Linked DNA regions of Homo sapiens. The protein of the gene in region 2 purifies or fractionates together with the protein of the main gene of each other region. This does not show direct contact. Each region holds a gene or a part of one and is shown on either strand. Other genes may lie near its edges.

Region 1 (4,242 bases), on a different chromosome or scaffold from region 2:
GAGGATTGCTTGAGCCCAGTTTGAGACCAATCTGGGCAACATAGTGAAACCTCGTCTCTACAAACCAGCCCAGTGCAGTGGCATGTACCTGTAGTCCAGCTACTGGGGGGCTTAGGTGGGAGGATCACCTGAACCTAGACTGTCAAGGCTGCAATGAACTGTGATTGTGCCATTGCTCTCCAACCTGAGCCTAGGAGGTCATGGCTGCAATGAGCAATCATTGTGCCATTGCTCTCCTTTTTGAGATGGAGTCATACCCTGTCTCAAAAAACTAAAAAATAAAAATTAGTCAGGTGTGGTGGCTTGCACCTATAGTCCCAGCTACTCCGCAGGCTGAAGCAGGAGGATTGCTTGAGCCCAGCAGTTCGAGGCTGCAGTGAGCTACGATCATGCCACTGCACCCTAGCATGGGTGACAGAGCAAGACCCTGTCTCAAAAAATAAATGCATTGAAAAATAATAAAACAGGCCGAGCACGGTGGCTCACGCCTGTAACCCCAACACTTTGAAAGTCCAAGGCGGTTGGATTGCTTGAGGTCAGGAGTTCAAGACCAGCCTGACCAACATGGTGAAACTCTGTCTCTACTAAAAATACAAAAATTAGCCAGACATGGTGGCGGGCACCTGTAATCCCAGCTACTCAGGAGGCTGAGACAGGATAATTGTTTGAAACCGGGTGGCAGAGGTTGCAGTGAGCCAAGATCGCACCATTGCACTCCAGCCTGGGTGATAGGGCGAGACTCTGTCTCAAAAAAAAAAAAAAAAAAAGGAAAAAGAAAATAAAGGCTCCCAAGCCAAAGTTATTCTTGGTCCTTTGTTAGGGAAATAATTGCACAATTAAACAATTAACCCATGGGTGGTGATTAGGTCTCAGAGTGGGTGGTTTCAAGGAGAGGGTGGGGACTGTCTCTCCCAGATTCTTTGTCAAGCCTTGATGTAGCCCCTCAAACCATGTGTTGCTTGGCCTCCTTGTCCTAGTTGAGTCGTATTTTCTCCAAGGCCCTGTGGAGGACCCTCAATACCCCTCTTAGACTCCTCTACTGATGTATCTAGGAAGGAGGAAGGATTGGTGTCATAGAAAACACTGGGTTTCCTGGGCAGCAGACCATGTTGGGGCTTCAGGGCAGAGCTTCACTCAGATGCTGTGGGTTGAGAATGACATGGGTGCACGCCAGTGGGTCTCAGCACCAGCTCTGTCAGACCCATGGGGGTTGTTCAGTGAATGGTGGTAGATGGCTGAATGGATGCTGAGAGCTACCTTTGAAGACTAGAATTAAGGCCCTAGTTTGATACCCCACTTACTCTTGGCTCAGGAATCTAATTTCTTTACTACAGTAAGTTTTCTTGGGCTTTTTGGTGATGATTTGGACAGCTCTTTTAACCTGCTGTTGTACTTATCACTTGTGCTGATTAAGGCAGTTGGGGTTTTCACAGAGGTAGTGTCAAGGGAGCTTCTGAATTCCCTTAGGTAAATGGTTGCCCTTCCAACAAAATTAGACCTCGCTTCAGTAATTTATTTTCTGTTTCCCAGGTGGCTGACCCAGTTGTCACGTTTTGTGAGACGGTGGTGGAAACATCCTCCCTCAAGTGCTTTGCTGAAACGCCTAATAAGAAGTAAGCTGGGAGCACAGTGTCCCTGGGACTGCAGCCTCCTGGACACTCTCTCTCCTTTATCTTCCACCTCTACCCCCACCATGAGCACTATGCACATAGAGACCTCTACAGCTCAGAATAGGGGGTGCTTACAATACTTGAGTTTCACTCCAGCCCTCTCAGCCCTTCTGCCTTTGAACACAATGACATGGGATTATTCGCCTTGGGTATTCCCAAGAGGAGTTTCATAACTGCCACTTTGTCTCTATAAAATGACTATCTTAAAAGTTTACTCCAAATCTTACTCACTTTTTGTTTTTTTGTTTTTTTTTTTTTTGACACAGGCTGGAGTGCAGCCTCAACTTTCTGGGCTTAAGCAATCCTCCCAAGCAGCTAGGACTATGGGCACACACCAGGCCATCTGTTAATTTTTTTATTTTTTGTTGTCCAGACTGGTCTTGGACTTTTGGGCTCAAGTGTTCCTCCCATCTTGGCCTCCCAAATTGTTGGGATTACAGGTGTGAGCCACCATGCCCAGCTTAAACCTTACTTTTTTTTTCTTTTTTTTAAGACAGTCTCGCTCTGTCGCCCAGGCTGGAGTACAGTGGCACGATCTCGCCTCACTGTAGCCCCTGCCTCCCAGGTTCAAGCAATTCTTGTGCCTCAGCTTCCCCAGTAGCAGGGATTACATGCACGCACCACCACACCTGGCTAATTTTTTGTATTTTTAGTAGAGGTGGGGTTTCGCCATGTTGCCCAGGCTGGTCTCGAACCCCTGACCTCAGGCAGTCCGCCCGCCTCGGCCTCCCAAAATGCTGGGATTACAGGCATGAGCCACCACGCCCAGCTTAAACCTTACTTTCATAAAGACCAGTAGATTGAAATGAAAGAAAGATGAGCCCTTTGCCCTTTTTGCTCCACCTTGCCCCTGATACTGTGGCTTTTTTTTTTTTTTTTTTTTTTTTGAGACAGGGTCTCACTTCGTCACCCAGGCTGGAGTACAGTGGTGCCACCATGGGTCACTGCAGCCTCAACCTTCCGAGCTCAAGCGATCCTCCTACCTTAGTTAGCCTCCCAAGTAGCTGGGACTACAGGTGTGCTAACCACACCTGGGTTTGTTTTTCTTTTTTTTTTTTTCTTTTGAGACATAGAGTCTCACTCTGTAGCCCAGGCTGGAGTGCAGTGGCTCGATCTCAGCTCACTGGAACCTCTGCCTCCCGGGTCCAAGCAATTCCCCTGCCTCAGCCTCCCGAGTAGCTAGGACTACAGGGAGTGAGTGTCACCACACCCAGCTAATTTTTGTATTTTTAGTAGAGATGGGGTTTCACTGTGTTGGCCAGGCTGGTCTCGAACTCCTGATCTCATGATCTGCCTGCCTCAGCCTCCCAAAGTGTTGGGATTACAGGCATGAGCCATCGCACCCGGCTGGCTAATTTTTTATAGAGATGGGGTCTCTTGCTTTGTTGCCCAGGTTCTGTTTGTTTGTTTGTTTGTTTGTCTGGGGTTTTTTTTTGTTCTGTTTTGTTTTTGAGACAGAGTCTTGCACGGTCGCCAGGCTGGAGTGCAGTGGCACAATCTCGGCTCACTGCAACCTCCGCCTTCTGGGTTCAAGTGATTCCCCTGCCTCAACCTGAGTAGTTGTGATTACAGGCATGTGCCAGCGCACGCCACCACGCCCAGCTAATTTTTTGTATTTTAGTAGAGATGGGGTTTCACCATGTTGGCCAGGGTAGGCTCGATCTTCTGACCTTGTGATCCGCCCACCTCGGCCTCCCAAAATGCCGGGATTACAGGGGTGAGCCACCGCGCCTGGCTGTTTGTTTTTAAGAGGCAGTATGTTGCTGTATCACCCAGACTGGAGTGCAGTGGTGTGAGCCATAGCTCACTGCAGCCTCAAATTCCTGGGTTTCAGTGATCCTCCTGCCTTGGCCTCTCAAAGTGCTGGGATTACAGGTCTGAACCACCACGCTTGGCCCCTGTGGCTTTCACTGATGTCACTTCCTCAGCTGTCCGTCTTGTTACCCTTTTCTTAGTAATGCCTCTTCTGCTGTTCTGTTAGCCGTCCTTACCACCCATTTCCATTCTGACCAGGAACAAGATCACCATGATTGCTGAGCCTCTTGAGAAGGGCCTGGCAGAGGACATAGAGAATGAGGTGGTCCAGATTACGTGGAACAGGTGAGAACAGGGCTCTGACGCCAGGGTCGAAAGGAGGCAGGGATGCCACAGTTTAACTGCCGGGTCTCTAAGAGCACACATCTTTCTGGGGAGCATTTATGTCTTTGCCTTTGCTCTTGTTCTGGGCACAGTGGGTAGGATGAAGTGACTGTCTTCCAGGAAGGGAGGGTCTGTGGCTCCAGGACCAGCAATCACAGAGCTGGCTGACAGCTCCATTGTCTCCTCCCTTCCCCAGGAAGAAGCTGGGAGAGTTCTTCCAGACCAAGTACGATTGGGATCTGCTGGCTGCCCGTTCCATCTGGGCTTTTGGCCCTGATGCGACTGGCCCCAACATTCTGGTGGATGATACTCTGCCCTCTGAGGTACAGCAGAACTGATGGGAACTGGGTGGCGGTCTCTTACCTCTGGAGTGGAAGAAACTACAAAGTGTTCTTTTCCCAAAAGTATCTTGTGTCCTCTGGTGAAGGACAGT
Region 2 (4,561 bases):
CTGGAGTGTAATTTTTCTTTCTTCACAGGTTATTTTGTCCACAAATATTGCTGAAACAAGCATTACCATAAACGATGTTGTTTATGTCATTGACTCCTGCAAGTAAGTTACTGGGAAACCTATTTGTCTGCTCCAGTGTTACTAACTGGAAACTTCTTACCAGTTAACAGAATCAAAAACACCTTATTTTTAAACTCCTGTGTTCTTAAATCTCCAAAATTATTGTGCATCTATATAGCATTATAGGTAATTGATAATTAAGAGTAATTATTGTTGATTACTGCAAATCAGTTACGGTAGAAAGTGACAAAGCTTGAAACTGTAACTGATGATTACTTCTCATTGCTCTTGGCTGCTGGTGTCTCACTTATTTCCCATTGGGTGTTTCCATTGATCACTGCCATACTATAGCATGCTGTTTGATGAATAAAGATGACCAGTGTTTAGCACATGACAAATATCCTACCTTGAAGGACACTCCTTTAAGGATTAAGGGTCTTCATTTTGGTATGAGATGAGCCTGGAAAAATATACCAGGAGACATTCTGTGTAGATACAGGAATTACATGGTAATTGATAAATTGAAAGGACAAAAAAGTTGAAACTTGGTTATATCTGGCCAACTTGTACCCCATGACTTCTCTTTATAATTCCTTAGTCTGTCCTGACAATGAAAACAATTTGCTGCCAACATCCATTTTAGGAAATGATGAATAGCATTCTGTGCCAATCCCAGTCATTTAGTGGCAGCTGTCTCTGTATGTAACATTGAAGGAATCTGAGGTTACTTGGGGGTTCAAATGGACCACACAGGCATCACTAGATACAGATATCCTAAAAGTTACACTAAACTTTGGAATAGAGATGACTTAAATAATTACTTTCTTTTGTGTATGTGCCATATTCCATTTAAATGCTTTGCATTTGTTAATTTATTTAATGTTTACCAAAAAAACTATAAGGTAGATAATGGCATGCAAAGTTTGGCCAAGGCAGTTCAGCTGATAAGTGGCAAGTGGATGTTACATTGCCTTTTAGTAGGTTGACAACTAGGAGTTTGCAGTCAGATTGCTGATTCTTACTTGTGCCATTCATGAATAGACATCACAAGTAGGTATGGCTTTAACTACATAGTGGAAAGCATTCACTACTTAGTGGATATATAATAGTTATTGATAATACACATGAGTCTTAGAATTAACCACTTTTTCCTATGTAGGCAGAAAGTGAAACTCTTCACTGCTCACAACAATATGACCAACTATGCTACCGTATGGGCATCAAAAACAAACCTTGAGCAACGGAAAGGGCGAGCTGGCCGAGTACGGCCTGGATTCTGCTTTCACCTGTGCAGCCGAGCTCGTTTTGAGAGGTAAGACCCATTCTTGACCTTTAGTAAGGGATTTTTGTTCTGTTCTCTGTAGGGACAGATGTGTGCAGTTATGTAAACCTGCCAATATAAGCTGATCTAAGTCTTGCCAGCCATGTTGGAATCAGGTGTAAATGTTTCGTAAGAATCTTCATCACAAATCATTTAGAGAATAAGCCAGATTTAGAAATATAGAGACCTAGATTTTAATATTATTTGTGCCTAATACATTGTATAACACTAAGTGGTTACTCCTTAGGCCTGCATTTCCCTCATTCTATAAAATATTAAGTTACTTAACCTCTCTTGTTTCCTCAGTTGTAAAAAGAATATAAATAATGCCTAACCCATAGGGTTGGTATAAGTATTAAATGATTTAATAATGTAAAATACTTTGAACAGTGTATGGCACATCATGATCTCCCAATAAGTGTTTGCTGTTGTTAATTTATACAGGTCAGATATCTCTTTTAAAACTGAAATGCTTGGGACCAGAAGTGGTTTTGGATTTTTTTTCTTGGTAATATTTGCATTGTATTTACCAGTCGGGCATCCCTAATCTGAAAATATGAAATCCAAAACGCTCTAATGAGCATTTCCTTTAAGTGTCATGTCAGAAGTCAAAAAGTTTTGGATTTTAAAGATACATCTATAAGAGCCTTTCTAGTGGCACTAAAATTACATGAACTAGGAAGGTGGGAGGTTGTAGAGAAATGTTAGTATGAGTTATCATCCTACAAAAAGTCTTGTTGTCGTTTTTAACCCATGTTTGTCAACAGGCAAGGCCTGAAGAGACCATGGGTGGAGCTAATAACATTCGCGATTTTGGATAATTTTTTCATTTTTCTTCTCAGCCTAAAAGGCTATCAAGCTGTGAGGATAAGTCAGAAACCACTATGCAACCAGATTAAATTTTGTCAACAGTGTGTATAGTGAACGATAAAAGGTCCGATGGTAATTGTAAAATAAAAGGATGAGGAAAAGGCAGCTCTGTATCCCTGATTACCTTGCTGCAAAAAGTTTATTAACATCTGTGTATACACAAGGAGGATGGTTATTTTATGCTTATTTTCTCTTAGACTTGAAACCCACATGACACCAGAGATGTTCCGAACACCATTGCATGAAATTGCTCTTAGCATAAAACTTCTGCGTCTAGGAGGAATTGGCCAATTTCTGGCCAAAGCAATTGAACCTCCCCCTTTGGATGCTGTGATTGAAGCAGAACACACTCTTAGAGGTACTTACAAATACAAACCTACTTGACGCAGATATTAATCATACCATCTGTCTTGTTCTGGCAGATAACACTTACAAATGAATCAAGATGATGAAGATGTAGTCAACAGGGCTGTGATAATAATAGTAAGGCCTCCAGTCTTACCTTAGATAGTTAGTATAGTCACTGTTCTAATGAGCAATGAGAAGGAAGAAAGGGACAATGTGAGTCTTTAAAAAAGAAAAGAAAACTTAAAAAGGCATCTCTTAACTATGTACTAAAGATCAGAACATAACTTACTCATGATACCCACAGTATTTCATATGAATCTCTTACAACTTTTTTTGTTTTTTTGAGACGGAATCTCGCTCCATTGCCCAGGCTGGAGTGCAGTGGCGTGATCTCAGCTCACTGCAACCCCCACCTCCCAGGTTCAAGCCATTCTTCTGCCTCAGCCTCCCGAGTAGCTGAGACTACAGGCATACACCACCACACCCGGCTAATTTTTATATTTTACTAAGACAGGGTTTCACCATGTTGGCCAGGCTCTTCTGAAACTCCCGACCTCAAGTGATCCACTCACCTCAGCCTCCCAAAGTGCTGGGATTACAGGCAGGAGCCACTGTGTCCAGCCTGGAACATTTATTTTTTCTTGCTAAACTTGTTAGAGGTACAGTGAAAATTAAGGGCATTGGAGCTAGATCTGAATTTGAATTTTGAATCTAGCATTTATCTACTATGTAACTTCAGAATTTTCTCTAGATTTTATTTTTTTTAAAACATTAACAGCTGGGTATCAGACTTCTTATGGCATGTAGAAACTTACGCTGCTATTATAGTTAATACTGTATTTATAGACTTCATATGAATTGTATTTGTTTTTATAACCTACAGGATTTAGTTGTAGTACCTTTATGTTGGGTGCTCCAGATTTTGATTTTGTTCTATTTTTGAGTACAGAGAATTGTTGGCCGTAGACATGGTATTAGCGATTGGCTTGACAAAAGAGGAACTCTAAACTGTCTTAACCTTAATTTAGAGTAATGTTTTGTCTGCCTAAAATTAGTGTTCATTTGTTTCTGCTCACAAAGAACTATCTCCCCACAGAGCTTGATGCATTAGATGCCAATGATGAGTTGACTCCTTTGGGACGAATCCTGGCTAAACTCCCCATTGAGCCTCGTTTTGGCAAAATGATGATAATGGGGTGTATTTTCTAGTAAGTGCTTTGTTTTATTTCTCTTCGTTAAGTGGCAGAATAATTTCAGAATCTTCTCCTCCCTGTAAAAGCAGTATTGGCTCAGATAGACAAAAAAAAAATCCTAAATGTTCTTCAGGGAAGTAACATACCTAGATATTGAGAGCAGTGTAACACTAAAAAAATGAACAGTTCCAGTAGGTGGATATCTGGGCCCAATATGGGGAAAAGGGCACTGATTTCTCAAAAGTTAAAAGCAAGCAGGCCAGGCAATGTGGCTCACACCTTGAATCCTAGCACTTTGGGAGGCCAGGGTGGGAGGGTCCCTTGTTATTAATAGTTGGTCTTGAAAGAGCGGTGTCAGGAAAAGAGGTTTATTTTATCAGAAAATGTTGAAGATTAAGAGATTTGGTATGATGGGGAAGAGAGAATATAAAAGGAAAAATATACTTGGTCATAATTTATGATAAATATGTGGCCATTAGAGCATCAGAGCATTTTTTTCTTTCTGATTCTGAAGAGAGCAGCTATAAAGTTCTTTGTTAAGCCAGTTTCATTGCAAATAAAAGTAGAATCATAGCCATAAAGACTGCAACCCACAGTCGACAGTCCTACCTGAGCTGCTGGCAACAACATTGTGATCTAGTCTGGATTTAACTGTCTTTGTGTATTTCAGCGTGGGAGATGCTATCTGTACCATTGCTGCTGCTACCTGCTTTCCAGAGCCTTTCATCAATGAAGGAAAGCGGCTGGGCTATATCCATCGAAATTTTGC
Region 3 (3,500 bases), on a different chromosome or scaffold from region 2:
AAAATAAAAGTTTCTACCTCTCAGAATTATAAAAATTAAATTAGGTTTATATGCATATATGTGTATATATGTGGGTGTGTGTACGTGTGTGTGCGTATACGGTTATCTTTTAGAGTAGTGCAGAGTAAGCACTTTTAAATTGTTAGCTAAAATTATTTCTTCTGAAATTCTCACTCACCTCAGCCCCTTCCTCTCTACCAGAACTCTAGTTCTATCCCATTCTCTGCTTCTGCTGTTGGTTTGGATATGCTTTTCAACTCACACTACATTCTGCTACCAGATTAATCATTTTAAACTACCACTTTATTAACATTAATAGTTCCTTGCTCTAAATTCCTTCAACAGTGCCTACAACATTCAAAACACGTGCAAACTCCTTAGCCCAGCATTCAAGGCCTTCCACGATACAGCTTCACCCCAGCTGCCTTTTCAAGCCTTTTCTCAGGTATTTCCACACTTCTGACTGCTGCCACGGCTGCTTCCCTGACGCTGACATGCTCTGCCATCTGTTCACTTTGCTTATGCACTGTCAACTTGCCTCCTCCATTAATGCCATCCTTGATTCAACAGTGATGCTCCTTCCTTCTGAGTGCTGCAAGTGATCAGCAGCTTTCTAAGGTATTTGTCCAGGAGGCTCATGTTGCCTTGTGAGACTTTTTTCCATTTTTCCCCCATAACTTGAATATCTTACCTTCATTCCTTTTCTTAAGTCTTAGTCCATGCTGAGTTTAAGAGCCCGCCCTTTCTCTGAGCTATCGAGCGTTAATTACTCAGAACTCTGGTGTCACCCTCTTCACACTGGAGAGCAGCCAAGCTCTGTGAAGCTTGTTACTCTTCTCCGCTCCACTCTCCAAAACTTTGGAGATGAGCTCCTCCACAAGACTTGTGTCTTACTCATGTCTGTATGCCTTGTAAGCCAAGACGTACCCTCTCAAATAAATGTTTAACTCAACAAAGCAGAAGCTCCTTGACTGACTACAATGCACATTTCTTCATATCCCCCTCAGGATCAAGGGGTGTACACACTTGCATAGCTTCCTTTGAACTGACTTTCAATCAAAAAGTAAGGCACGTGGAGATCAGCTAAGCCCCAAAACCTGAGTGTGGGATTGGTGTAAAGCAATACTCATCAACTGCCAGGTAGTTCTGCCACAGGCTTTCGCTGGCCCTGGTAGAACAAGGGAGCAGCTGTGCTTGGCCGGTGTAGCAATTTCTGAGCATGATACGTTCTCATCCTCTGAGATTATCCAACACTGCAAACCACTTTCAGGCACACTGAATAATTAACTGCTCAAAATAAAAAAATCATCTCTTACCTTTTTGCTTCTCATATATGAAAGGCGGCCCTCATGCGCATCAGGGTAAGTGCAAAATAGATATGTGGTGATGGCATGCTTTAAAAAGGAGTCGCCAAGCATTTCAAGCCGCTCCAGGTTAAATCCATCACTAGCGTTTGACAGAGTCAAAGCCTGAAGAATAAGTCCAGGATTGGGGCCAAGAGTCCTTGAGGAGTACCCAATAGAAGGGCTCTGCTCAGAATCCATCCTGCCCTTGAGCACTTGAATAGTGTCTGTCGTACCAGGCATTACGGCCATCACAGGACTTCCATCTGAGGTAGATTTGTTAGCATTTCCATCAAGGTATTTATTACTCAGGAGAGTACATTCATCGCTGGGCTGGGGCTGGTTCTCGTAACTGTATAAATTCTGAATGGAATATGAGGTAGTTGGTTGCACGGGTATTTCCTGCTTGTAGTAATTTAGCTGATTTCCTTGGCAAAAGTCTCTGTTAGCTAAATCATAACTGCCATTGGCGAGATTTTGATTGTAAGAAAGACCATTAATTGCTGTAAGATCTGCTGAAACTTCAACGTGGAGCTTACCAGGGGACTCGCTGAGCAACGTTCTGCAGTTCACAGACATTTGGTCATGATTTTCTAGAGAGGAGGTTCTATTAGCACCTTGATGTGCAGCATTTTCAGGGACAATTGTGCTGTGCTTACAGTAATTATCATTTTCAGCTGAAGAGGAGTTAGAAATTGAGATGAAAGATTTGCTGTCAATAGATTTTTTCCACCCGAAGTCTAAGTTAGGGTATCTGCAAAGACATTTTTATAACTTTACATCAGATTCTTCAAAACAGCTAGGCTGAGAGCAACAGCAATTTGAATTTAAAAACAAAAACAAAGATCCCAAAAATGTACTCCTAAACTTTAGAATAGAAGCAAGTTTCCAAATTTTTAATTTACAGTGTAAATTATAAAGTGGGACATGGTTTTATCTACTGCTTTAATCCCTGGCCCTAGACTCTAGGTGTGGTAGTTAAGAAGGTCACGAAGCTTGCAGGCATCCTGCAGGACCTGGGGCCTAGCTTCACGGGTTGGAATCCCAGGCACTCTGGTTAACCCGCTGAGTAACTCTGGGCAACTTACATAAACTCTCTGTGCCTCAGCTTCTGCACCTGAGAAAAGGGCTAACAATTCCTATCTCATAGCACTGTCTTAATGATTAAATGAGCTAACTAACACAGGGTACAGCATTTAAGCTAGTGTTTGGCACTATAGCAACTAACCAATAAATATTGTGGTTATTCCTATTATATTTTAAAATTCCTTCAATCCCTAGAACAGTCTTGATATTGCCAATTGGATAACCAGAACTAATGTGAGTGTTTAAGCCAACAGTTTCTTTAGAATGCAGAGATTTTACTAATGGGAAGAAAATAATGAAGACAAAGAACATGCTAAGGCTATTGCTTTTTAACATATATTTGGATTTTTAAAAGAAAAAACAGACTGAAAATGCTGATGCAGTAACAAAGAACAATTTCATTCTCACTCCAACTGTTATGGCTTAAGCAGTAATGGTTATTTCTGACCTCAGATTCTCATCTCCCTCTGAGACTTGACAAGACATAAGATATCCATTATTTTCTTTTTACTCTTTTAAGAATTATTTTATATACAATTTTAACTTAATTCTGTTCTTTTGCAAACAGGATCTCATGATCTGTGTTCTTTCTGGCTGACTGCACAGGCATACCTAAAATCCGCAGGAAGTGATCTGACTCCCACGCCAGCATCGCTGGCAGTCTGGGCTCTTAGCTCCTCTGCAGTCAAAAGGCAGTGAAGGCGATAAAGTATGCTGGGGAGACAAACAGCTTTTCTCCACAGTGATGCTGGAATTGGATGTATAGCACAGAGTTCTGGAACCAGTATCTTCAAGTAAGGGGAAAAATGGACAGATAAATACAAAGCGCACACACAAAAGAAAAAAAAAAAGACCAATTTCACTAATGGATAAAGAAAATCATAAATGCTAGTAAAACTTAATTTTAAAAAATATTTGTAAAAATAATCCTCTAAGGCCAAATGGGATTTATCAAAGGATTTATGAGAATGATTTTGTGATATATTAATGGGCCAAGTATAAAAACAAAACTCTCAATACTTACCAAAAAGAACATTCAAATAACATTCAACACATAATACTAATTAAAAC
Region 4 (4,561 bases), on a different chromosome or scaffold from region 2:
TGAATAACCCATCTAGAAAGCTGAGCATTAATTTTTGTCTTCCCTTTGCCCTCTCGTACCATAGGTGTTCCCAATCCCTGTCAATTCTGTCTCCCTAATTTCTCTCAAGTCTGTCCTTTCTTAGTCTCCAGGGCCTCTAGCATAGTTTATGCCTTCCTCCAGATGTTCTTAATAGCCTCTTAACTGATCTTTTTGCATCTAGATTCTCTGCTTTTCACTTTGTGTTCTACAGTGGCACCAGACTGGTCTTTCTATAACTAGGCTCTGCACATGTTGGTTACTGGTTAAAAAAACCTTAGTTCCTTCCCATTGTCTACAGTGAGTGGTCTTAAAAGCCTGGTGCACAAGATGATTCCTTGGGTTTCAGGAAGTGAATATTAAGAACTCTTATTTATCTTAAGTGGAAATGAAATTAAACCTTACTAATAATACATAGATTAATGGTGATCCAGTGTATATCATAAATACATATGTATGTGTTGAAGATATGTGATCAAATTCTTTTTTACTGAGTACACAATCAAAAAAGTTTGGACACCCATCAGGCTATAGGATTAAAGTCCAGACTCTTTAGCCTGACCCTTTATGGTTTCCCCAGTCTGTTTCTCTATTCTTGTCTCCCATATGCTCCCCAGCAATATCAAAATAACTTGCAGATCCCTAAACACACCTTGTTTTTGAACCTCTATGCCTAGACTGCCCTCCTTGCTCACTACTTGAGGCTGTTGCTATCCTTTATGACCTAGCCTAATTGTTACCTCCTTTGTGATGCTTTCCCCAACTCCCTTTGTCATTGTTCCTAAAAAATGCTTAATTTGCCTTTTAGTGTGGGAGTCATTCCTTTGTATTGAGATTGTGCTTGTTCCACTAGAATGGGTCCCCTAACAGTGACTTTTAGTAGTGTTTAGCAATAGCACACTAAGCACACCCAATAAATATGTGTTCTGTAATTTCCATTTCTGTAATTCAGTGAAAATTACAGCCAAACAGAAAAGGAGATTATAGGTTGAAGTAGCTAGAATATTTTACAATCTGGATTCTTGATGTAGTATAGCATAGAAACGTATGAACTCACAGATTACTGTCCTTTATATAGTCTTTGTTACAACTTCTCAATTCTGCCATTGTAGCACAAAAGCAACCATAGACAATATGTAACTGAATGAGCGTGGCTATTCCACTAAGTTTACTTATGGGCACTGAAACTTGAATTTCATGTAATTTGTATATGTCATAAAATACTCTTGATTTTTTTTTCACGCATTTAAAAATGTAAAAACCATTTTTAGTTCCCAGCTATGCAAAAAACAGGTAGTAGGCTAGATTCAGCCCTTAGGCTATAGTTTTTTAGACCAATAGTTTAGCCTATACAAGATTGCTTATTTTGTAGTTATTATAAAGAACATTTAGGTTTAATAGCAGAAATTGTTTGCCCCAACAGGTCCGTTTTTTATCTGATCTTGTGAATTGTCATGTGATTGCCGCCCCATCAATGGTTGCTATGTTTGAAAATTTTGTAAGCGTAACTCAGGAAGAAGATGTACCTCAGGTAAGAGAACCCCTCATGCTGAATCTTGAGGGGTTCTTGAGGGGTTACTGAATCCTGGTACTTCCATATAGTACCAGGAATTTTTCGCTGATAACCCATTAGCAATAAAGAAAAAAATAACAGCAGACTATCACACTTTAAGTTCTTACTATCTAAAAATTAAGCTGACTGGCACACTGGTGGGTTCTCATAATATCTGTATGTTGATTTAAATGATGCTGTCTAGTAAGATTAGAACTAATATATCTAGAAATGCTCTGTATAAACCAGATGTCTTATTTAAGTCCTATTAAATAGCTTCCATAGGATTTCATTCAAGAATAAATAAAATATGAATGAATATAATTAAAGCATATTTTAAACTTAACTTTTTAAAAATCCTTTAGGTGCGACGAGATTGGTATGTGTATGCATTTCTGTCATCTTTGCCCTGGGTTGGAAAGGAGTTGTACGAAAAGAAAGATGCAGAGATGGACCGCATCTTTGCCAACACTGAAAGCTATCTTAAGTAAGGGCACAGCTCATAGTACTCTTTGTTGCTTAGGTAAAGGATATCTTATATCAGTGATACCATTTGAGTTTCTCAAAAATAAGCTGTAGAGTTCCTGAAGGTATTTTCTAGGTAATCCTGTTCTCCTGCTGTTTTAACTCACTGAGACCTCAAAGTAGTCAGATATGGTTTGCTTACTTTTGCCAGTGCAAAGGACAGTTGGCAATATAGCTTCTTTTAAGCTGCTTTTATATGTTTGTTTATAAAAGACATAAAACACCCTAGTGCAATAGTTCCTCAAATATTAGTGTGGATAAGAATTACCTGTGGTACTTAAAATACTCAGACCCCAACCCCCAGACCTGATAAATTATACAATTTGAGAGAGAGGTTTGGACATCTGTATTATTAACACATTTCACAAGTGGAGAACCACTGTCCTAGCACATACAGTATATTTAGTTCATGTAAATTAATCTTAAATCAAGCTCTTAAAACAGTGGTCCTTAACCCTCCATCCAGCCAGTACTTCTTAAGTAATATGACACATTTCAATTAAAATAGTCACATGTCTTCCCATTACTCATCTCTCCTAAGCCAATGTAAAAGCTTGGTTTATATTGTTAGATACAATAATAATAAATAGGTCTTTTTAGTAAATTTATGCTTAACTATCCAGCAACATGGTAATGGTTATGTGGCCCTTAGGTTTTTACAGATTGATTTTGTTGTTAAGTTTCATTTTCTCTTTTTTAAGTGCTTTTTTTGGATAACTGTTAATAGCTACTTAGTTGGTTATTAAGTAAAGTTAAAAGAAGCTTAAAAAATAAGAATCTTTTGGCCGGGCGCAGTGGCTCACGCCTGTAATCCCAGCACTTTAGGAGGCCAAGGCAGGTGGATCACCCGAGGTCAGGAGTTTGAGACCAGCCTGGCCAACATGGTGAAAACCCATCTCTACTAAAAAATACAAAAATTAGCCGAGCGTGGTGGTGGGTGCCTGTAATCCCAGCTACTCGGGAGGCTGAGGCAGGAGAATTGCTTGAACCCAGGAGACGGAGGTTGCAGTGAGCCGACATGGTGCCGCCACTGCACTCCAGCCTGGGCAACAGAGTGAGACTCCGTCTCAAAAAAAAAAAAAAAAAAAAAAAGAATCGTGTGTGTGTGTATACATATCCTTTCTCTTTTTTATTCAAATGATAGCCCAATATACACACTGTTCTTCACTTGGCTTTTTTTTTTTTTCTTACTATAACTTGGATTTGTTGCATAAAAATACTTAACTCTACTTCATTCTTTTTAACAGTTGTAGGGTATTTCACTTTTTAATGTACCATGATTTCCGTAGTCTCCTGTTGGTGGACGTTTAGGTTATTTTCAATCTTTTGCTCTTATAAACAATGTTTCAGTGAATATCTTTGTGTATATGTTTTTATGTACATGTGCAAATATATTTATGGGGGATATAAATTTTTAGAAATGGCATTGCCGAGTTGAGGGTTCTAAACAATTTTGATAGATTTAGTCAAATTACCTTCCAAAGAGATTATACTTTCCCAAAGAGATTATATCAGTTAACCTCTTTGTCAACAATGTTTGAGACTGAATCTTGACCTGCATCTTGATGATACACAGTACATTATCAAAACAGTTGATATCTGCCACTCCAGTAGGTAAAATGTTATTTCATTGCTTTAATTTGCATTTTAATAACTGTGAGGGTGACTGAGCATCTCTTGTTTTTAAAAGCCTAAATGTAGATTTTCATTTTTATCTTTAGAAGACGCCAAAAGACTCATGTACCCATGTTACAGGTATGGACTGCTGATAAACCACATCCACAAGAAGAGGTAAATGGATTTCAGTCCCTTGTGATACAAACACAGTCAGCTCTTGAATAGATTCTTATCTCTGTAAGATACTCAGACCATTCCATTTTACCCTTTGACTGTGTTTCTACATTTCATGATAGTTCCTTCTCATAGCTCAAGGTGTATGGTAGGTCTTTAATAGATGATAGAATGTAATTGAAATATTCCCTTGTTCTTTGGAATGCCAGCTATTACAGAGTTGACATATATTTATTTAAATGCTTAATTTGAAAAATGTCAAAACAGACAGTTCCAAACAGGTAGACTTTGTAAGTAAAATAAAAACAAAAACTTAGCACCTTTTTTTGTACCATCTTACAAGTTAGCTTACTTTTGTATCCTGTATTTTAAAGGGTAGTGATTTTTTCATTTTGTCTAGTCAAAATGTTAATTATATTAATGATTAAAAATTAATCTGTCTTTAGTATTTAGATTGCCTGTGGGCCCAGATTCAGAAATTGAAAAAGGATCGCTGGCAGGAACGGCACATCCTAAGACCTTATCTTGCCTTTGACAGCATCCTGTGTGAAGCACTGCAGCACAATCTGCCTCCTTTTACACCACCTCCTCACACTGAAGATTCAGTGTACCCAATGCCAAGGGTCATCTTCAGAATGTTTGATTACACAGATGATCCCGAGGTAAGTGACCGAC
Region 5 (3,990 bases), on a different chromosome or scaffold from region 2:
GAACCTGTCTCAAAAAAATGAAATAGATAAAGACTGGGCGCTGTGGCTCATGCCTATAGTCCCAGCACTTTGGAACGCTGAGGCGGATGGGTGGATAACCTGAAGTCAGGAGTTCGAGACCAGCCTGGTGAAGATGGTGAAGCCCCATCTCTACTAAAAATACAAAAATTAGCTGGGTGTCGTGGTGCAGGCCTGTAATCCCAGCTACTCGGGAGGCTGAAGGATGAGAATCGCTGGAGGCAGAGGTTGCAATGAGCTGAGATAGCGCCACTTCATCCAGCTTGGGCAACAGAGCGAGACTCCGTCTCAAAAAAACAAAAAGGCCGATTTTCAATGTCAGATATTATTCTATCCCATTTTTGAAATTTATTTTTTCTTTTATATATATGAAATATTTTATTTATATATTATATATGTGTGTGTATATATAGATATATAGACATAGGGGTTTTGCTGTGTCGCCAGGGCTAGTCTTTAAGTCCTGGCTTCTTTGGAGGCTGAGGCAGGAGATTCGCTTGAGCTCGGGAGGCAGAGGTTGCAGTGAGCCCAGGTCACGCCATGGCACTCTCCAGTCTGGATGACAGAGCGAGACTCTGTCTCAAACCCACAAGACCTCTCTCTCCCGCTAGTCTATAAAGCTTCTTGACGATAAGGCTTTTGTGCTTGTTAGTGAATACTAGTCCTGTTTCTCCTACCTGACACAGTGAACGCTCATAAGATGTTTGAGTGCTCGCATGAATGAACGACCAGACCCGACTGAATTATTTTTTTTCTTCAGGCTCCTGAGTCTGGTCGACACTTTCAGAGTAGACGTTTCCAAGAGATGATTAAGGACACACATCCGCGCGTCTGTACGTGCAAACTCGAGCAATACAACATAAAGCACTGAAGATGGCGCCACTCAAAAGCAACTAGAAGCCTTCATTTATCAGGCTGGGGCTAGGGAAAATCTGGCCAGTGTTGAAGAATACAAAGCTAACCTTTGCAATTCCTTGCGGTTCTACCGTTCCGTAGGTGCCTTCTAGACCAAGGGCCGCAAGTGGTCAATTCACTAAATCCAACCACAGTCACAGGCCGCTGCTTTGAATTTACCACGCGGAAAGCAGCTTTTCCTGTGCTTCCTGCTTCCCCCGGAAGTGCCTTGCTACGGGAAGTGACGAGAGCCGGGTGGACCCAGGGTGGGGAACTACCTCTTCCTCTCCACGCGGTTGAGAAGACCGGTCGGCCTGGGCAACCTGCGCTGAAGATGCCGGGAAAACTCCGTAGTGACGCTGGTTTGGAATCAGACACCGCAATGAAAAAAGGGGAGACACTGCGAAAGCAAACCGAGGAGGTGAAACGGAGGGACCTGGGGCCAGGAGGGACGCTGAATGGAGCGGAACCCCGGGGTGCGGGAGAAGTGCCCGGGCTGGGATCGTGGGAGCGCGCGGCGGATAACAGCGCGTCCAGACACCGGGCGTGGGTCTTGGCGGGCGGTCGCCCAGGAGTGGTGCGCTCCCCGGGCAGTGGACGCGTCGTTTGCCCGACCGAGCCAGGTCCGCCGTGCGCTGACCTCTTCCTCTGAGCTTATAGGCATCCACAGGTCGGAACTCTGGTAGAGAGGCCCTGTTGGAGCTCGGGAGAGGGCCGGGTGTCCCACGTGGTCCCCGGCGACTTGGGCGCGCCTCACACAGTGCGCAGAGTTGGACCTTCAGTCAGGCTCCACGTTGTTGGCTAAGACAGAACTCCCGGCATGAGCGTGCGCGAAGGAAGTTACACGTCAAGTCAAAGTGGGTACTGGAGGCCGGGTGCGGTGGCTCACGCCTGTAATCCCAACACTTTGGGAGGCCGAGGCGGGCGGATCATGAGGTCAGGAGTTCGAGACCAGCCTGGCCAACATAGTGAAATCCCGTCTCGACTAAAAAATACAAAAATTAGCCGGGCATGGTGGCGCGCGCCTGTAGTCCCAGCTACTCGGGAGGCTGAGGCAGGAGAATTGCTTGAACCCGGGAGGCGGAGGTTGTGGTGAGCCGAGATCGCGCCACTGCACGTCAGCCTGGGCAACAGAGCGAAACTCCATCTCAAAAAAAAAAAAAATGTGGGCACTGGAGCTTTAGAGTAGACTGGAGAGGTCTTAACTTCATCTGCGCACGTGGGCCGCGTCTTTAGTGACTTTTTAAACTCTCGTAAGGGAAGTAGAGTTTGTTTTCCGGTAAGCCGCCCTGAGAAGATGACGTAATTCAGTTATTACGAAAATCTGTTTTACAACTGTTTGACCCACATGAGTTGACTGGATTTCCCATGGAAATGTAAAGGCATGTGTTGCGGTGCTGAGTGTACACCATATTTTTTATATAGGCCAGCAGTGTGCAGTAGTTTTAACCTTGATAGCTGACCGGTGCTTTGCTGTTGCTTCCTAGTGATTTAACTTGTGACTGAGTCTCTGTTCTGAGATCAAGTCAGTGGGAACAAAGATTGTCCTTGAACTTAGGTTGTACGCTACTTAGAATTAACTTTCCTTGTTGGTTTCTCTGTCTTTTGATATGGAGTTCTTACAATAGCAATATTTTAGAATTGTAGGAAGCCGCGGCAGATTTGTACTCAGGTGCAAGAAGGTCGTGGTCCTGGTTTACATTGCATCAGTCAATTGCGTTCAATTTGGCATGCTCAAATCCAGAGGTACATGACCAAACTCTGTTATATTCCAAAAGAGACCACCAGGATGGGAAACTCAGTCTTATTTGGTGGAACCAAGGGATGAAAACGAATAAAATTTTGGAAGGAGACTAGCTTGTTTTTTGTTGGCTAGGAGATTATTCTTAATCTATGATTTGAGAACAGAGACCAGGCCTGAAATTTCCGGGAGGCAGAATTCAGCGTAATATGTACTTCCAACATTGTTCTGGGGCTCTGCCAGAACAGGCTTCTAAGGAGGCTACAACACATGTCTAATTGTTTTCAGTAGTATGAAAAGTTGTAGAGGGTCAGAAAGTTCAAATAGGAGCCACAGTCATCTGTCTTACTTGGTTCTAAGGTGTCACTCCTTCCATATTCTTGTAACTTATTTATTTTATTTTAAATTAAGTACATCTTTTTTACACATGAGTGATAGACTGTGAGTTTTTATAACTTTTTGTTTCATAAAGTGTCTCTTTATTTTATTATTATTATTTTTTGAGATGGAGTTTTGCTGTCGTTGCCCAGGCTTGTTCTCCATGTTGGTCAGGTTGGTTTCAAACTCCCAGCCTCAGGTGATCCGCCCACCTCGGCCTCCCAAAGTGCTGGGATTACAGGTGTGAGCCACTGCATCCTGCCCTTTTATTTTTTGTAGAGACAGAGTCTTACTGTCACCCAAGCTAGAGTGCAGTGGCATGATTATAGCTGACTGCAGTCTTGAATTCCTGGGCTCAAGCAATCCTCCCACCTCAGCCTCCTAAGTAGCTAGGAGTATAGGTGTGCTGCTACACCTGGCTAATTAAAAAAAAAATTTTTTTTTTTGAGACAGTCTTGCTGTGTCGCCCAGGCTGGAGTGCAGTGGCATGATCTCAGCTCACTGCAACCCCCGCCTCCCGGGTTCAAGCAGTTCTCCTGCCTCAGCCTCCCGAGTAGCTGGGACTACAGGTGCGTGCCACCATGCCTGGCTAATTTTTTTGTACTTTTAGTAGAGATGAGATTTCACTGTGTTAGCCAGGATGGTCTCCTTCTCCTGACCTCGTGATTCGCCCTCCTTGGCCTCCCAAAGTCCTGAGATTATAGGCATGAGCCACCGCGCCCAGCCTAAATTTTAAACTTTTTCAATAGAGACGGGGTCTCGCTATATTGTCCATGCTTGCCTGGAACTGCTGGCCTCAAACAATCCTCCTGCCTTGGCCTCCCAGAGTGCTGAGATTACAGGCATGAACCACTGCACCTGGCCCTAAACTGTCTTTGTATAAATTCATTTGCTCTTGTAAGATAGGCAAAGTGCAGAATTCCTGTTTTGGAGTTAGAGGCTGCAGTGAGCTATGATCA
Region 6 (5,145 bases), on a different chromosome or scaffold from region 2:
GAGAACAAGAAAAATCCAAACCAACTCATCCTTAAAAACAAGATTTGTGAAAATGCTTTGCCTGGGAAGAGAGCTGAAATCTACACAGGCATACAGATGAGATGTTTTGTAGCCATCTATTTCTGCACAGCACCAGAGAAATGCATAGCAAACCCTCCTGCTCTCCAGCACACACTCTCTCACCAATATCTAACCAGATACACGCAGCCCTGATTTAAATTAACTTTCAGCTTATTATTTGGCTCAGGTTGGGAGTTGGGGGGATGGGAGAGGGGCAGGCAGAAACCCTAACCCCACCATGCAAAATCCAGAAAGGCTTAGAGGCCCACCCCGGTGCGACTGGGAGGGAGCAGTGCCTTTCCAATTGCAGTTAGAGCCGGAATCTATGGTGTGAGTTGGCTGAAGGTTTTAAAAAACAAAACAAAACAAAAAAATAGAGCCGGAATCCGGCCTGCTCTAGCGAAAGGAAAGGAGTCTCCACTGCTCCATAAGGCTTCATAAGAAAAAGAAAAAGGGAAAGAGCCATGTCTCCAAAATGCTTCAGAGGCTAAAACAGTCTATAAACATTCTGTAAAGCGACATACTACACACATGATCTCGGAGACGAGAAATCCCCGTCCTTAAGTAGTACGAATCTTCCTGTCTTCATCTTTTGGTGGTTGTAAGCAAAAATGTACCCAGGAGGAGTGGGGTGGAAAGCGGGGAGACAAAGGTGCTGACTGCAGGAACCTGTAGAACTTCGGAGTGACTCAAAGGCACTTCTGGGCCAGAGAGGCCCCAGCGTTTACGCACGCGTTCCAATACCCCTGGCGAGCTCACAGGGCAGAGGCAAATTCCTCTCCACTCGGCCGCGCCCACGGCCTCCCAACCCCGGACAGAGAAGGAAAGGAGGGACCCCCGCGTGTCCGCAGCTGCTTTCGCCTCTCCTGCTCCTGGAGGGGTGGGGGAATCATCCGCTGCTTCCCAAGCCCTGCAAACCCCCCAAACTGCTTGTTGGGACCCATTTCCCGTAGGAGCAATTTGACCCGCTCGGACCGAGGACATTCAGCTGTGAGCTTTCGAGAGATTTTGTAACCAATAACCATAATCCCGCGGCAGAGGCCACAGAAAAGCTTTCAATTCCTGCCCAGCATCATCAACACACACACCCCCGCCATAAACTTAAAAGCAAGGATTAAAGACCGGAACACCACGCCACACGGCAGGGGGTAAGCACCAGAGGACAAGAAGTTCTCAGCTGAGTCTCTCCACCCAATAACGGAGTGAGAACAGAATCGGGGCAAACAGAAGCAGCAGCTCACCTTTGCCTTTTTGGGACCGAGTGCTCAACTTCTATGGGTTTCCCGTGCAGTTCTATTTTACCTGCGGACACACAAGAAGTGAGACGGTCGGCCGAGTTCAGCGGCTCTCCCTGCCCGAAGACCCGCACAGCCCAAGCGGCGACACAAATGGCCTCCTGAGGCCCTCGAAGGGCCCCCGAGGCCCGGACGCGGCTCCAGGCGGAGGGAGAAGCCGACCCCCTCGAGCGGCGTGGGCATTTAACTCGCAGATGGTTGGGGAGCAGGGTCCGCTGGCGGGCCCACTACTTGGGTATCAGTCCAGTCTCCAAGCCTCCCCCACCCACCCCTGGGGGCCACCAACACCACGAGGCCCGCAAGAGGGACGCGGCCCACCCTCTCACCGCCCTGGACACGCTCCACAGGGCAGACTCGGGGCAGGGGGCTCCCCTGGCTTTCTTCAGGAGGGGGCGCCCTGGCCCTGCCCTCTGCTTCAGCCCAGACCCGCCGGGAACACTCAGCGGTGGGCTTGAGGAAGACAGGGAGTGGCGAGAAAGGGTCGGGGACGGCAGGGGAGACCACGAACGGGAGAACTGGCAGAGGCGCAGCTCGGCACAGGCTGAACCAGGCGCGAAGGACGGCGAGGCGCCCGCACCACGTCTGAATTGATTAAAAGGGAAGCCGAAAGGCACGGGGCTCCCATGGGGACCCCAACGCAGCCTTCCCCCTGGGCGTCCTGCTCCGCCCGGCACCGTCCCTCGCCCTGGCGGAGCCATACCCGGAGGCCGCAGCCCCGCGCCAGGGCCCGGAGAGCGGCGGGCGGCCGGTGCGTGGCGGCGACTCCCTTCCAGGCGACCAGCCGCCCCCGCCCACCTGCCCCTATCGCTCGTCGGACCAGGGGAGGTGGAACGGGGAAACCGGGCACACACTCTCTCCTCCCACAGGGTGGGGAGGAAGCGCGGGGCCGCCTGTGCGAGGCACCAGCCTCGCGGTCTCACTCGGCAGCACGGTCGAGGCCACTTTCCGTTCTCCACGGCCGGGGGTTTCGGGGCGCAGCACAGACAGCGCCGTAAATAACGACCGAGGAAAGCAGGAAGGAACGAGGCACAGGCGGGCATTCTAGCTCGGCCCCCGAGGCCCAGCGTGCCGGGGCCTGGAGCACGCGCCTGGGCCCGGGCGGGGCGCCGGGGGAGCGCGCCTCCCCCAGCCCCGCGCCCCCCTTAGCCAGCGCCGGGGCTTTCTTGACAGCGCGTTCGCCCTCACCCAGCAAACCCCGGCCGGGGAAGCAGAGCCGCGGGCCGGAGTGGGAGCCGGAGCTGAGGAGAGCCCCGGCCCCCACGCGCGTGGGTGTGGGCGCTCAGGCCTCACCCCCGCTCCCCCAGCGCGCCGGGCCTGGGGCCCGCGGAGCCACCCGGTGGGCCTGGGCGGGCGGTGCAGGGCTGGGGCGAGAGCCCGGGTGGGGCCAGGCCCGGGCCCACCTGAAAGCGCCTCGATGGCCTTGAGGGCCCAGCTCTCGTCCGGGCAGTCCACGAACGCGTAGCCAGTCTTCACCAGGAAGGGTCCCGACACCGGGATCTTGGCGTCCTTGAAGATACTTTCTAGGTCCGAGGGGGCGGCGTTCTCGCTGAGGTTTCCGATATACAGTTTGTTCATTGTGAAGAGTGGTTGTTTAAAAAAAAATAACGAGAAAAAACGAAAAATTAAAACCACCCACGGTGATGGATGGATCCAGCTGGTTTTGTTCCCCTCGTCTTCTCGCCTTTAAAATACACAAACACAGTAAGAACCAAGCACAAGAACGAGGAGTGAAAAATCAGATCCGAGGCTTGTTTTTTCCTTGTCTAGATGTGTTTTAAAAGAGAAAGAAAAGAAAAAGCCTAGCTACAACCCAAACGCATCCACCAGTCTTCCTAAGTCTTAGGAGGAGGCGGGATTAGCAAGAGAAAGGAGGAGGAGGAGGGGAAAAAACTACTTTTTGTCTCTTCCTTCCCAACCCCTTTGGCTTCGGCCAGCGGACTGTGAAAATATCACACTACGTGAGGCAGGCGCCGCCTCCCCATAAAAAACCCAGAAGGGTGACTGGCAGGAGGGAGGGGAGAGGAGGAGGAGGAGGAGGGAGGAAGGCGCAGGAGGCGGAAAAAATCCGCTCCGAGTGTCCGGCTTTTTGAATGAGCCACGTGTTCAAACTACAAATCAACGTCTCACGTGAGGAATCCCAGAGCCTCAATTAGAGTGGGTTTCGGAGAAAAAAGCGAGCGAGAGGAAGAGGGGGAGGGGAAACGAGATTGGGAGAGGGACTCTGAGAAGGGGGAGGAGGAAGAAGGAAAATGCTAAAGGAACCGCAGCCGGCACCAAGCGGGGCGCTGACGGTCACAACTCGAGTTTGTAAAGGGTTATCTGGTCTGGGCGGATCCTGGGAGGGAGGGCTGGAATATTGATTTTTTTTTTTTTAATGAGGAAATGGGCAGAGGTACTAACAGGCAGTTCCTCAGCGCTAGTTACCGTAGTTTTAATCATTCGATTTTTCAAAATAGGTTATTAACAACAAAACCAGAGTCACAATCCCGAACTCGCCTGGTGGCTTTAATGGCATTAGAAGTGTAACCCCAGCAAAGCCGCAGGCACGTTTCTAAGGCTGGCATGGACGGAAATGCTGCGAGGAGGGGTGGGGGAGTGGGTGAGGGGGGCAGGGGGTGGGGGCAAGACAGGCGGGCGACGCGCCCCACCCCGTGCGCCCTTCTCGGGCCCTGGGCACCGCGCGAGTGGGGGCGGCCCGGCCCCGGAGTGGTGGGGGATGGGATCCCGCAGCGTCCTGGGCGGGTGTCTGGGCGACACCTCCTCCGCCTCCGCCTGCGCTCGCGGTGGCTCTCGGCTTCGCGTTTGCCATTGGTTGCGCGATTCAGAAAAGGCTCCAGGATAAATGAGGCCGGGGGCGGGCTTGGCCACTGGTGGGGGAGGGGAGTGCAGGGGCGGAGGTTTCTGGCTAGGGGCTGGGGTCGTCGGGGGCCTGGGCCGCTGGAGGAGAGAAGTCAAAGTGGGAAAAGTCGGTAAAGGGAAACCCTCTCTTCCTGTAGTTTTTAAAGGGGGAGGAGTGGAGTAGGCTGGTACTTTTATTTAAGTAATTTTAGTTGGAGAACTTGAGACTTAAAACTGGAAGACCGTCGTGCATTACCCCTAGGTGGTATTCGCATTTGAAAAATTGTTCGAGTCTCTTTCTGCCTCTTTTCTGCCTGGATTTGGCCATGAGAGCCATACATAATTTTCTCTATATGTAATGAGTACAATGGTGGTTGTCGGGGGAGGATTTGGGCCCGGTGGAGCCTTGTGGGCCAACAAAATGTGAACTGGAGACGAGCAATACGGAAACGAAGGCAGTGCTGGGGTTCTAGTGGAATCTCCAACTGTCGTTTAAAGATTGTGTACTCCACTCAAAGGTTTCATTTGCACCAGATACTTGTGTGTTTTTAACAGGTATATTTTTAACAGGTATTCTATTGAAAAGATAGAAAATTCTAATTTTTTAAGTGAAAGAAATTCTATATAACATGAAAATATAGACAAGAATCTTTAATGACTTGGTACTCTTACTGGTAGAAAAAAGGTATCCTGAATAGAGGAAATATTATGATTTACACTGGAAACATCTTCGGTAATTGATACAGCCTTGCTTCTCTGTCAAAACCGTTGTTAGCATTTTAAAATGTGTATTTTTCATTTAAAAGATGAATGGTAGACTTAAACATGGGAATTGTTGCATGATATAAAGAGTATTTACATTTTGTCTTTTAAAGGGAACTTACTTTGTAATTTTGTGTTAAGGAACCGGAAGGTGTCAGATCATCCATTTTAAATGCAACTGTTCTTTCTT
Region 7 (3,298 bases), on a different chromosome or scaffold from region 2:
AGCGTACTCCAGTGACAGCAATCAGTAGGAAGTTTGCATCCGGAGACACGCAGCCTGTCTGCCCCTGTCTTGGGCCACCCGTCTAGACATTTGTTCTCTAACAATCAGCCGGGTTCCTTCAAACGTGTGCTGCTTATACATGCTCATTGTGTACTGCTAATGTCACCTACTTCCCCCTTCATTCCCCACAATGAATGGATCCATTTTCCCCATGTTCAAGTTCCCAAGAGAGAATCGACTGCCACTGTAATTTTTTTTCCTAATCACTCATAGGTTACAAGTACCTACCCTGGTCCAGTGAACTGCGGGATTCATATGTGGCCACTTAGGCTGGTCTCGTTGGTATGGAGCTGTGGGAGGGCAGCACCCAGAAATAGGCTTTGTTCCAGGCCTGGCACGTACTCCTCCTGCTCCTACTTTCTCTACCTGGGAAATAGCCGCTCAGGACGAAGCTGCTGCTGTGGTGTCGCCACCTCTGAGAAGTCTCCCAGACCCTCCGACTGCTCTTTAATTGCCTGTTCTCTCCTCTGGAAGCCTTCCCCCAACACAGAAAAATTCAATCCCATCATCAAAAAGGGCTTTAGGTTTTCCCTCCATCTTTACGTGTTGATCAAAGTTTGCAGATCTGCTGGAATCCTTATTGAAAACTCCCCATTTCAAACCAACCCGGTCTACAGCCTCCAGGGAAGCTTCCTCCTGGGCTTTGGCTCCATGTTTTGGTAGAGGGTGGAGGCTTTGGGCAGTGCTCAAACTCCACCGGGAAGTCTCTCTCACTGAGCAGCCCTCCTGCCTGTCATCCTGGGCAGGCGAGCACTCTGAGGCCCCAGTGTAGCTCTGTGCTTTGATATTCCCAAGCTCTGCTGGGGCCTGACTAGGCCAGCCCCAAGGTGGCCAGAGTTCTGGCTTCATACCTGAGCCAAAAGCCCCAATCCATGCTTGGCCATTGCCTGAGTATTAGCTGCCCCAGGGGGATCACGGTCCCCATATATTTGCTTGCCATGGACCCTGGGCAGCAGGGAGAGAGTAGAGATTTGTCAAGAGCCCATGGTGGAGGCTGAGGCCCTGAGGCCATGAGATGCAGGCATGGGGTGAGAAACAGGCCCCTTGGAATTGGGCTGGGCCTTGGCCCAGCTTAGTCAAATCAAAAGGCTTCTATTTGGAGAGCTGAAGAGGGTGTACAGAGGAAGGGGCTAGGTCTGCAAGGAGTGCCTCATCTCCCTGAAGAGCTCTCAGTGGAACATACTTCACCCATCCATGTACCCACATCTTTCCTTGCCCAGAAGGCGAGAGCCAGCTATAACAGACCCATTTCAATACCCTGGCAAGTCATTACTGCCCTTAGCTCTTGGTGTCCCCATCTGTGAAACATGGGGGACAGCTGCTAGCCTGGATTGGAACTTGGGCAAAGTCCAAAGAATGGGATTTAGAGCTGAATGAACCTCACACTGAGGGCACAATAGCACTAGGCACTGCCCCCAGAGCCTAGTGCTATATGCCTGCTGCAGGTCCTACCCAAGCATGCTTTACTGAGGAACTCAACGTTTCAGAGCTTGAGGGTCAGGTTGATCATGGGCTTGTGACCATAGGCTTCCTTAGTATGCCAGGCTTGGAGAACCGTGAGAAAAGCAGGGAAGATACCTTCAAGGGTAGCAGGCATCAGCTCTACTCACCTTGGCCCATAAGGCTTTGCCTGGTCATGCTGGCACCGGGTCATATGCTGGACAGGGAGAACGAGAGTCCCATCCTGGAACTCCAGAAAAGCCCCTGGATGCTCCAGCCCCTGGGAAAGCACACAGCCAGGCCCTTGGGTGGGAGGTTGGCTTCTAACAGTGCATACACATGCCCTTCCTCTGAGTCGGGGCAGCAAAAACATCCATTCCGCTGCGCAACAGTTGTCATTTTTCTAACATCTGAAAACTCCAGAAGGAGATGGTGATAAATGTGGTACCGGATTCTGCCTAAAGGATCAGTCTTTAGATGTTTTCAGATTGAAAGCCTCATTTGTGATCCTCACAGCCATCTTGAAAGAATAGAGCAGCCAGTGGGTATACTGGATTGTGAGCTAAGAGGCCTGGGACTTTCCCCCTGTTGCTGCCAGCCAGGTTGATGACCCTGGGCAAGTCTTTTTCCTTACCAGGTCTCAGTTTCCTCAGCTGTAAAATGAGAGGTTGATCTGGATCAGGGATAGTAAATGGGCCTTTGTTCAGTTACTGACTGTTGTATAACAAACCACCCCCAAATTTAGTAGCCTTAATAAACATTTATTAGCTCCTGAGTGAGTGGCTTGGCAGTTTGGGCTGTGTTCAGTGTGGTGGTTCTTATCTCATCTGGGCCCTCGTGTGGCTGAAGTGAGCTGGCAGATCAGCTGGGGACTGGCTGGTCTCAGATGGCCTCGCCCGCCTGTCAGGTGGTTGGCTGGGCAACTGGGCCACACGTTCCAGCATCTAGCAGGCTGACCCAGGATTCTAGACATCATGGCTGAGTTCCAAAAACCGCAAGAGAAGACAAGCCCAGTATGCGAGTGCTCTTGAGGATATTGCTATGACGTATCTTTTGGCCAAAGTAAGTCACATGGCTAAGCCCAAATTCTTCTTAACAGGAGGAGCTTCAAAATATGGCCATATTTAAAAAATCTACCTCAGGACTCATTTCACTTGCCAACTCAGAACTTTTAGTAGCAGCTGCCTGGAGTGCCTTTTGAGGATCTGCAGCAATTTTCAGACTGTTTGGAAATACTGACATGATAGTTTGGCAGTTTCTCTTATGAGCATGGAATTCAAGTGTGGGCACGTGAGCGTCAGGTATTTGCCATCCCTGGCCAGGTTGACCCGTAAGGTCATAACCTGCCCCATAGGATGTTATATGCAGTAGGCCTGTCTGACAAGACCACAGAAATAGAGAAGGCAAAGCAGAGCAAAAGATTCTGAGCCAGGCATCCTTGGTTTTCATCCCAACCAGATCATTGATTGATTGAGGTTTTAGGCAAATCAAAATCCCTCCACCAGTAGCCAGATTCTTCATAATAAACTTCCTCCATAACAGTAAACCATTTCCTGAACACCTGCTGTTAAAAAGCACATTTTACATTTACTTAATCTCCACAACCACCCTCAGTAGGTGTAGTAAGGACTTCTGGTTACAAGTTACAGAAACTGAATTCAGTCCTGCTTAGTGGGAGGAAGTTTATTGGCTCACAAATTGTAAAGTCCAGGGATCTTCAGACATGGGGACTTGGGTTCAAAAGCTGCCATCGAGAATCCGGTTAGCCAGGCATGGTGACACGTGCCTGTAGTCCCCG

What was found.
Region 1: the proteins of DHX9 (region 2) and EFTUD2 purify together in Homo sapiens (affinity purification with mass spectrometry; 2 studies listed by BioGRID, with this or other methods). This does not show direct contact.
Region 3: the proteins of DHX9 (region 2) and DICER1 purify together in Homo sapiens (co-immunoprecipitation; 3 studies listed by BioGRID and IntAct, with this or other methods). This does not show direct contact.
Region 4: the proteins of DHX9 (region 2) and NCBP1 purify together in Homo sapiens (co-immunoprecipitation; 3 studies listed by BioGRID and IntAct, with this or other methods). This does not show direct contact.
Region 5: the proteins of DHX9 (region 2) and DDX21 purify together in Homo sapiens (affinity purification with mass spectrometry; 2 studies listed by BioGRID and IntAct, with this or other methods). This does not show direct contact.
Region 6: the proteins of DHX9 (region 2) and IGF2BP3 purify together in Homo sapiens (affinity purification with mass spectrometry; 2 studies listed by BioGRID and IntAct, with this or other methods). This does not show direct contact.
Region 7: the proteins of DHX9 (region 2) and RALY purify together in Homo sapiens (affinity purification with mass spectrometry; 3 studies listed by BioGRID and IntAct, with this or other methods). This does not show direct contact.

The regions. Positions count from the first base shown.
Region 1 is NC_000017.11:44,854,446-44,858,687, reverse strand, and holds part of EFTUD2 (116 kDa U5 small nuclear ribonucleoprotein component), read left to right. Parts: intron 1-1,530; coding exon 1,531-1,613; intron 1,614-3,683; coding exon 3,684-3,770; intron 3,771-4,005; coding exon 4,006-4,132; intron 4,133-4,242. UniProt on the Homo sapiens protein: Required for pre-mRNA splicing as component of the spliceosome, including pre-catalytic, catalytic and post-catalytic spliceosomal complexes. Component of the U5 snRNP and the U4/U6-U5 tri-snRNP complex, a building block of the spliceosome.
Region 2 is NC_000001.11:182,876,802-182,881,362, forward strand, and holds part of DHX9 (ATP-dependent RNA helicase A), read left to right. Parts: intron 1-28; coding exon 29-102; intron 103-1,219; coding exon 1,220-1,372; intron 1,373-2,448; coding exon 2,449-2,609; intron 2,610-3,695; coding exon 3,696-3,807; intron 3,808-4,462; coding exon 4,463-4,561. UniProt on the Homo sapiens protein: Multifunctional ATP-dependent nucleic acid helicase that unwinds DNA and RNA in a 3' to 5' direction and that plays important roles in many processes, such as DNA replication, transcriptional activation, post-transcriptional RNA regulation, mRNA translation and RNA-mediated gene silencing.
Region 3 is NC_000014.9:95,102,030-95,105,529, forward strand, and holds part of DICER1 (endoribonuclease Dicer), read right to left. Parts: intron 3,218-3,500; coding exon 3,042-3,217; intron 2,098-3,041; coding exon 1,317-2,097; intron 1-1,316. UniProt on the Homo sapiens protein: Double-stranded RNA (dsRNA) endoribonuclease playing a central role in short dsRNA-mediated post-transcriptional gene silencing.
Region 4 is NC_000009.12:97,643,676-97,648,236, forward strand, and holds part of NCBP1 (nuclear cap-binding protein subunit 1), read left to right. Parts: intron 1-1,441; coding exon 1,442-1,549; intron 1,550-1,935; coding exon 1,936-2,057; intron 2,058-3,816; coding exon 3,817-3,886; intron 3,887-4,332; coding exon 4,333-4,548; intron 4,549-4,561. UniProt on the Homo sapiens protein: Component of the cap-binding complex (CBC), which binds cotranscriptionally to the 5'-cap of pre-mRNAs and is involved in various processes such as pre-mRNA splicing, translation regulation, nonsense-mediated mRNA decay, RNA-mediated gene silencing (RNAi) by microRNAs (miRNAs) and mRNA export.
Region 5 is NC_000010.11:68,954,980-68,958,969, forward strand, and holds the start of DDX21 (nucleolar RNA helicase 2), read left to right. Parts: upstream 1-1,190; 5' UTR 1,191-1,246; coding exon 1,247-1,333; intron 1,334-1,667; exon of another isoform or gene 1,668-1,769; intron 1,770-3,990.
Region 6 is NC_000007.14:23,467,181-23,472,325, forward strand, and holds the start of IGF2BP3 (insulin-like growth factor 2 mRNA-binding protein 3), read right to left. Parts: upstream 3,312-5,145; 5' UTR 2,931-3,311; coding exon 2,756-2,930; intron 2,468-2,755; exon of another isoform or gene 2,396-2,467; coding exon of another isoform or gene 2,056-2,395; intron 1,363-2,055; coding exon 1,302-1,362; intron 1-1,301. UniProt on the Homo sapiens protein: RNA-binding factor that may recruit target transcripts to cytoplasmic protein-RNA complexes (mRNPs). This transcript 'caging' into mRNPs allows mRNA transport and transient storage.
Region 7 is NC_000020.11:34,080,911-34,084,208, forward strand, and holds part of RALY (RNA-binding protein Raly), read left to right. Parts: 3' UTR 1-3,298. UniProt on the Homo sapiens protein: RNA-binding protein that acts as a transcriptional cofactor for cholesterol biosynthetic genes in the liver. Binds the lipid-responsive non-coding RNA LeXis and is required for LeXis-mediated effect on cholesterogenesis.